Homo sapiens: one gene and its partner. Changing the gene in region 1 together with any one later gene gives a genetic interaction. Each region holds a gene or a part of one and is shown in the gene's direction. Other genes may lie near its edges. The genes, in order: CCT8 and ATG10.

Region 1 (3,829 bases):
GTCAGAGGTTGCGGTGAGCCGAGATCCTGCCTGCACTCCAGCATGGTGACAGAGTGAGACTCTGTCTCAAAATAAATAAATAGATAAAAGTACTTTTCCACCTAAGTACTTATCAAAAGCAGATGCATCTGTTTTGACAGGGGGTTCTAGAAGCAAGCTGAGTTTCTATTTCACACATACAGTATTCTGCTGCTTCATAATATATGCACATATATCTTCATATTTTTTTGCCAAACCTTTATTTCTTCAGTCAACTATTATCTAATGACTTTGAACACCAACGTAGTGAAATGATTTTAAAGGGAATGTTTACTTGTTTTGCCAGGGAACAGTGTTGATAAAGACTGCTGAAGAATTGATGAATTTTAGTAAGGGAGAAGAAAACCTCATGGATGCACAAGTCAAAGCTATTGCTGATACTGGTGCAAATGTCGTAGTAACAGGTGGCAAAGTGGCAGACATGGCTCTTCATTATGCAAATAAATATAATATCATGTTAGTGAGGTAAGAAAAAGCCGATTTTTTTTTTTACCTATATCATAAATGGTTTTTTGGTGGTGAAAACACTAAACGAAATAGACCATGAAGACTGTTAATAAAGGGAAAGTAAAGGTACTAGGTCAAATAGCAGAAGGATTTAGTTTGGGGAGGGGTCAGGAAACACCTCTGAGAAAACATAAATTTAAGCTGAGAGCTTGAAGAACCAATTACCAGATAATTGAAGAGGGAAAAGCATTCCAGGCAAAAGGAACAACTTGTCCAAGAGACTAGACACAAGCTTGGTGCATTGCCTATCAGAGTATGGAGTCAGGAAGATCCCTTTTAATCCATGAACACATTTATGGTGCACACTAGACAACTTAACCCATTTCTACCTACCACCATCCCTAGTACCTAATAAAATGTGCAAAATAAATCACTCTTGTTCACAGAACATTGATTGCACAAAGTAAAGCAAAAATTTTCTATATGCTGTTGAGTTTTGTAAGGGTTTCTCTGGTGTTTTAGAACTATAAACCACTGACATCCTAAAGTGACTTCCATTCTCCCAATTCTAGAACAATGCCATACAACACAGGCTTAAGATGTGGTACTATTGGCCAGCTGGACTCACTCAGAGAGTCAGGAATCAGCTTCCTGGCCTTAGTGTTCATTGCAATCCAGACATGTTCTGAGTTAAAATCCATTGTCAAAGGAATGTGACATGGGGGCTGGTATACAGGTTCCTCTTTAATTTGAACTTTATATGCTATCTGAAATTGATTAAAACTTTTATTAAGGTCTTTGTGTTTTTTAAAGGCTAAACTCAAAATGGGATCTCCGAAGACTTTGTAAAACTGTTGGTGCTACAGCTCTTCCTAGATTGGTATGTATTTTGGAAAACACTAAAAGATAGTTGAACAAGATGGAATTTTTATTACAACAGTCACTTTCTTACAGACACCTCCTGTCCTTGAAGAAATGGGACACTGTGACAGTGTTTACCTCTCAGAAGTTGGAGATACTCAGGTGGTGGTTTTTAAGCATGGTATGTAGGAATGGTAAAACATGTTTAAGTGTAGGGCTTTAGCTTCTTGTATTTAATCACCAAATATATTTAATTTTTTGATAGAAAAGGAAGATGGCGCCATTTCTACCATAGTACTTCGAGGCTCTACAGACAATCTGATGGATGACATAGAAAGGGCAGTAGACGATGGTGTTAATACTTTCAAAGTTCTTACAAGGGTCAGTATCAGCAATATTCTTAGTAGTTTGTAAGGTCTGAGTAATTTGTATGGTCTTAAAAGTACAGTTTGCAGACTCTTGCACATCATGAGAACTTCAGAATGAGTGGTTTATATGAAATGAAGCACCTGTTTTTGTTTTTACCTAAGACTTAAGTGTCCATTGTTAGTGAATATGATAGTTTCCAAAAAAGATTGTACAGAGGAGTTAACAGCAAAACAGAGCTTTAAAAAAAATTGTTTATCGTTGTTTTCCATTGTAATGTACTGTTAGTTGCTAAAGCAGTTCTTAGTGCTATATCTGTGGATATGCAAAAATGATACGGTACTATTCCCATTCTTCACTTTGGTCCTTTTCATACACCAGACACTGTGCACTAAGAAAATTTGCCCCACCCACTCATTTTTACCAAATTTGTAATATGTATTTGAGTAACAATGACTGATAAAAACTCCTGTTTGGTGGGGTACTGGAATGTGAAAAGATTAGAAAACTGCAAACTGATTTTTAGTGAATTTGTTTTGTGTTCATTTTTTTTTTGGTGGGGGCGCTACATACAGGATAAACGTCTTGTACCCGGAGGTGGAGCAACAGAAATTGAATTAGCCAAACAGATCACATCATATGGAGAGGTACAGCTTTTTCTGTATAAATTGACTTTCTTTCCATTGCTTGAATAAAAGACAGTAATTAACGCATTTTTGTTTTAGACATGTCCTGGACTTGAACAGTATGCTATTAAGAAGTTTGCTGAGGCATTTGAAGCTATTCCCCGCGCACTGGCAGAAAACTCTGGAGTTAAGGCCAATGAAGTAATCTCTAAACTTTATGCAGTACATCAAGAAGGAAATAAAAACGTTGGATTAGATATTGAGGTATTTGAAAAAACACTGAACTTAAATTGCTTTATTTGGGGAATGCACAACCTAAAAATAGTATGAGTTTAAAAGAAATATCAATGAGAAACAGTGTTCTGATTTGGGAGCAGATTATTTTCTTAGTTTTTACATAGGTTGTCTGATGGAGGAACGTTTCATTTTCCTTCTGTTTTATTGATAGTCTTTTGTTCTGTAGTGTGTAGTCAGCCCAGTTCTGTATCCATTGATTCAACCAACCACAGATTGAAAATATTTGGAAAAACTAAAGACATTTAAAAATACACTATAACAACTATTTACACTATGTTATATAATTAATCTGGAGACGATTTAAAGTATATGAGAGGATGTGCATAGATTATATCCAAACACCATGCCATTTTATGTAAGGGATTTGAGCATCCACAGATTTTGGCATCCTTGGAGGTGCTAGAACCAATCCTCACATACTAAAGGATGACTCTATAAGGTAGGACTGTGCTTGGTTACTTTCCAGTACTATTTAAGGAGCTATGTGAGGCTTTTTGTGGGTGTAAACATTTTCACATAAAAGGATTTTAAATGAAAGGATGAAAATTGTGTTTGACAGGCTGAAGTCCCTGCTGTAAAGGACATGCTGGAAGCTGGTATTCTAGATACTTACCTGGGAAAATATTGGGCTATCAAACTCGCTACTAATGCTGCAGTCACTGTACTTAGAGTGGATCAGGTGAGCAAAGTGAAATTTTGATCTTTAAAAATACTCATTTGCATACTGTTTAATAGTATATTTTCCCAGAACTAGAACATAGCATAGTTCTAATTCAAAGGATTCTTAGTCCTCACCTATTAGAGATACTATGTGCCCCCCTCCAATTTTTTTCTTCTATTATAAATTGTATTGAATATATAACTTTCAAACCTTTTAGCCTTAGAACCCATTTGTACAAATAATTTAGAGAGTAAATTTAATATATAATACTAACATGGAATTTGGAAGGACCATAAAGCTCTCAAGCAGACATTGCAGACCACCAGCTTGAAGGAAAATGGAGTCTCTAGCTGTCTGCAGATAAGAGGACTGGGCATTGAAAATTTTTTCTGCTATGACAAATTACAGCTTGAGATACTAAAAGATGTTAAAGGTGTTTAAAATCATATTTCTACCCTTTTTTTTTTTTTTTTGAAGAATTGTGGTAGACTGTTCTATATATAGAAGTAAACCTGAAATCATAATTATTTTT
Region 2 (3,829 bases), on another chromosome or scaffold:
AAATTCCTCAAATTATAAGTATTATTGAAAGTGACATATCTCTTTATCTTAACTAATTGGGAAAGAGACCAGATAATTTATTTAGATTTTATAACATAGGTGCACACGAATTTTTGACTCACCTCTTTTAATGTCAAAGGAGATGTATTTTGCATTGTTATTAGAATTTTACTAAATTTTATGTTCCCTTAAGAGGAGGTTATGTGACCAGGGCTCAGGTATTGAAAAATACAAAATAGAGCAGTTACCCTCATTTAATGAGCTATATTTAGTACACACAGTGCAGCTCCGTGTTCTCTGAATATCCTGAGAGTTTTGGTTTTTATCTCTATGGCTAGATCATTTTGAAATTGCAGACTTTGGGTAATTTTTCTCTCAAACACATGCTATTATAGTTTTACCGTATAGTCATGCTGCATAATGACATTTCGGTCAAGAACAGACCACATGTACAGTGTTCCCATGAGATTATAATACTGTATTTTTGCTGTACATTTTCTTTGTTTAGATATGCTTAGATACACAAATACTTACAAATTTTACACAAATTTTGTTACAATTGCCTGCAATTAATACAGTAACATGCTGTACAGGTTTGCAGCCTAGGAGCAAGCAACTATGTCTATAGCCTACGTATGTAGGAGGCCATACCATTTGGGTTTGTGTAAGCACAGTCTATGATGTTTGTACAATGACAGAATAGCCCAATGACGTGTTTCTCAGAAGGTATTCCTGCCGTTAAGTGATGCATGACTGTATATGGTAAATCTTTTATATAATCAACTATTGATTATCTATCTCAAGATTGACAATACAATAGAAATCTTCTATTTTTAAACTAATAAACACAAATTTATGTTACTTAATAGCAAAATTATTTTGGTTGCAAGTGACAGAAAACCCAACCCATTGGGTGAAGCAAAGAAGGGACTTTTTGGGGCCATGTAATTGAAAAATCTGAGATAGAACTAGTTTCAGATATGGTTGGTGTAAATAATGTAGTCAGAATGTGGTTTCTCTGTATCTCATGGTCTTGCTTTCCTCTGAGTTGCAGAGCCAACTTCGTTTAATTACATGATGGCTGCCAGGTTTTTTTTTTTTTTTTTTTTGTGGTCTGTCTGGCTCAAACCTAGTGGAGAAGAGAACAGCCACCTTTCCCAACCCCCCAAAACCAAATCCTGAATTTCATCCCATTGGCTGTGATGTAGATCATTTGTCCTCCAGAGTCTCTGGGGCCGGCAGTACTGATGGGCAGGATCAGAGATCTGTGTCTATCCCTGGAGCTGTAATCATTTGTCCTCCAGAGTCTCTGGGGCCGGCAGTACTGATGGGCAGGATCAGAGATCTGTGTCTATCCCTGGAGCTGTAATTAGTGTAACAGTAGCCAATGCTCCTCTAAGGAACCATTCCCTTCTCAATCAGGAGAATTGAGGAGCAATTGTTCCTTAGAGGAGCAATGACTACTGCTCCAAAAGAAGGAAGAATGGATGTTTGATGTGAAACAGTGGCAATGACAACAGTCATTACATATATCTTTCTCAGTTTAAGCCAATGTTAAATTTACATTTTTCTAAATACGAAGGTTTCAATGGTAGAAGACCATTACAGGATCTGCTTTGTGGTCAGATAGTGTAGAGCTGGAATTTAAAACAGTAATTCCATCTACAAAATGGATATCCTTAATGAAATAATTAAAAATGACAGTATTGGATATCTGATGGCCTACTTTCCAGGCAGGAATGATATTAAAAATATTTAGCAACCTGTGACAGAGGCATCAACCAATCAGAATGAGTTGGATCTAACCAATCAACAACTAACCAGTGCAGCCCCCTGAGTGAGAGCTGGCTGTTTGTCAGCACAACTTACTGGGAGGCATTCTTAAGGTGCTGTCAAGTGTCTTAAAAAATAGAGTTACTGTATTAGTTTCCTAGGAATGTTATAACAAGGAACCACAAACTGGGTGACTTAAAGTAACAGAAATTTATTCTCTCACAGTTCTGGAGGTTAGAAGTCTGAAATCAAGATGTTGGCAGGGTCCTGCTCCCACCAGAGGCTTTAGGGAAGGACCATTCCTTACTGCTTCTAGCTTCCAGTGGCTGATGGCAATCTTTAGCTCCTAGATGCACCGCTCCAGTCTTCATCTTCACATGGCTTTCTTCCCTGTTTGTGTCACTGCATCCAAATTTCCCTCTTCTTATAGGAAGATTAACCCCTTAGTCCTTATTATTTTAATTCTATTAAAATGTAAATGTTGGTATGACAATGTGGTGGGGAATTAATATTTATTGGCATGTATGTTTGTTCTTGGGGAGGTATTATATTCTTACACATGACTTTATTGAATTCAAAAAAGTGTTACCTTAAAAAAATGGAACTGGCCACAATTAGATGAACATCATTCATTAGTGTATTTAAGAGCAAGTACAAGAAACAGGAGACAAATACTGGTAAAGGGCTCAGAAACCATATTTTGTAAGGAGTATTTGCAAATGGTGGTCATTTCTTCAGCGCTTGGAAGAACAGCTGTGTGGAAAAGGGATTAGACTTCAGAGGGCAGAACTAAGTAAGTTAAAGGATGTGAAATACAGGACAAAACTTTCTTAATGTACAATGCACTAAAATGGAAATGACCGCTGTGTAAGGGAGTAACAAGGGCCAGTTCCTGGAGGTACTCAGGCAGTTGCTGAGATGCATAAGTACCTTTCTGGGACATTTTCATAGAGATCTTGCCTTGAGAAAGAAATTGAAATGGAAGCTTTCTTGCAGCTTCAAGATCTATTTCAAGTCCTAAAATTGTTCTCTATGTGTATGCCATGAAAATCAATATTAATTATGTGACAAGCTATTTCTATAAGCTTAAGTTTTGTTCTGTGATCTTGGTGCTATGGACTAGTCAGGAAAAAAGGGAAAGGTTTAATCTAGGAGGGTGGAAACATCATTAATAAATAAGAGAGGTAGGAGAATAAAACTTGCATTTATTGAGTACTTACTACGTACAGGGTGTTGGACTAGTCTCTTTATCCATATAGTCTCATTTAGTACATTTAGTTTTTCACTGATCAGTTTGGAACTTATGGGAAGTGGTTCTTAAAATGATGAATTCTTAAAATAATTGGCATTTTCTTATATATTTTTTGGTGATGAAACACAGGACTGTTCTGATGGCTACATGTGCAAAATACACTTTCAAATTAAGAATGGGTCTGTGATGTCACATCTAGGAGCATCTACCCATGGACAGACATGTCTTCCCATGGAGGTGAGTAGTTTAATGCATCATGTTCTTTTCAGTCTCCGTAAAGTATACATTTAAAAATGTATACTTTAATGACTCCATCGCATTCCATCCTATGGAAGCACCACAATTATATGGCACTCATATTGAAATAAAATACTTTAATTCTGTTAAGTAAATATTTTAAAAACTTCAAACTTCTTCCCACTGGAGAGAGATCCAATTGCCATTGGATCCTGGGCCTGTTGTAGGGGGAGAAGGAGGTATTTTCCTTTGTAATACTGAAAGCAAGAATTGTGGTAAAGTTATATAAGATCCACTCTGACTCCAGATTGTAGTGAGCCGTCATACTTTTGGTTTCTCTTGGACCTGAATACCACAGATGCCTTCTGTTGTCTATTGATTTTTTTTTCCAAGTAAAATTCCCTGAATATAGCCCTAGCCCCAGGCTGCTTAATACTTGATTGGAGACCTCTTTGCCTGCTCTGCCTTTAGCCCCTTTTCCCTTGAAAATATGCTGGATCTGGGTCTTATTCCTTAGGGGACTTTAACCTTGACTTGAAAATCTTGCTGAACCAAATTTTATTATGG

What was found.
Region 2: of CCT8 (region 1) and ATG10, changing one enhances a phenotype caused by changing the other (phenotypic enhancement), as found in Homo sapiens cells (one large-scale study listed by BioGRID).

What each region holds. Positions count from the first base shown.
Region 1 is NC_000021.9:29,060,027-29,063,855, reverse strand, and holds part of CCT8 (T-complex protein 1 subunit theta), read left to right. Parts: intron 1-325; coding exon 326-504; intron 505-1,299; coding exon 1,300-1,366; intron 1,367-1,440; coding exon 1,441-1,528; intron 1,529-1,612; coding exon 1,613-1,728; intron 1,729-2,288; coding exon 2,289-2,360; intron 2,361-2,438; coding exon 2,439-2,603; intron 2,604-3,195; coding exon 3,196-3,315; intron 3,316-3,829. UniProt on the Homo sapiens protein: Component of the chaperonin-containing T-complex (TRiC), a molecular chaperone complex that assists the folding of actin, tubulin and other proteins upon ATP hydrolysis.
Region 2 is NC_000005.10:82,055,341-82,059,169, forward strand, and holds part of ATG10 (ubiquitin-like-conjugating enzyme ATG10), read left to right. Parts: intron 1-3,154; coding exon 3,155-3,262; intron 3,263-3,829. UniProt on the Homo sapiens protein: E2-like enzyme involved in autophagy. Acts as an E2-like enzyme that catalyzes the conjugation of ATG12 to ATG5. ATG12 conjugation to ATG5 is required for autophagy. Likely serves as an ATG5-recognition molecule. Not involved in ATG12 conjugation to ATG3.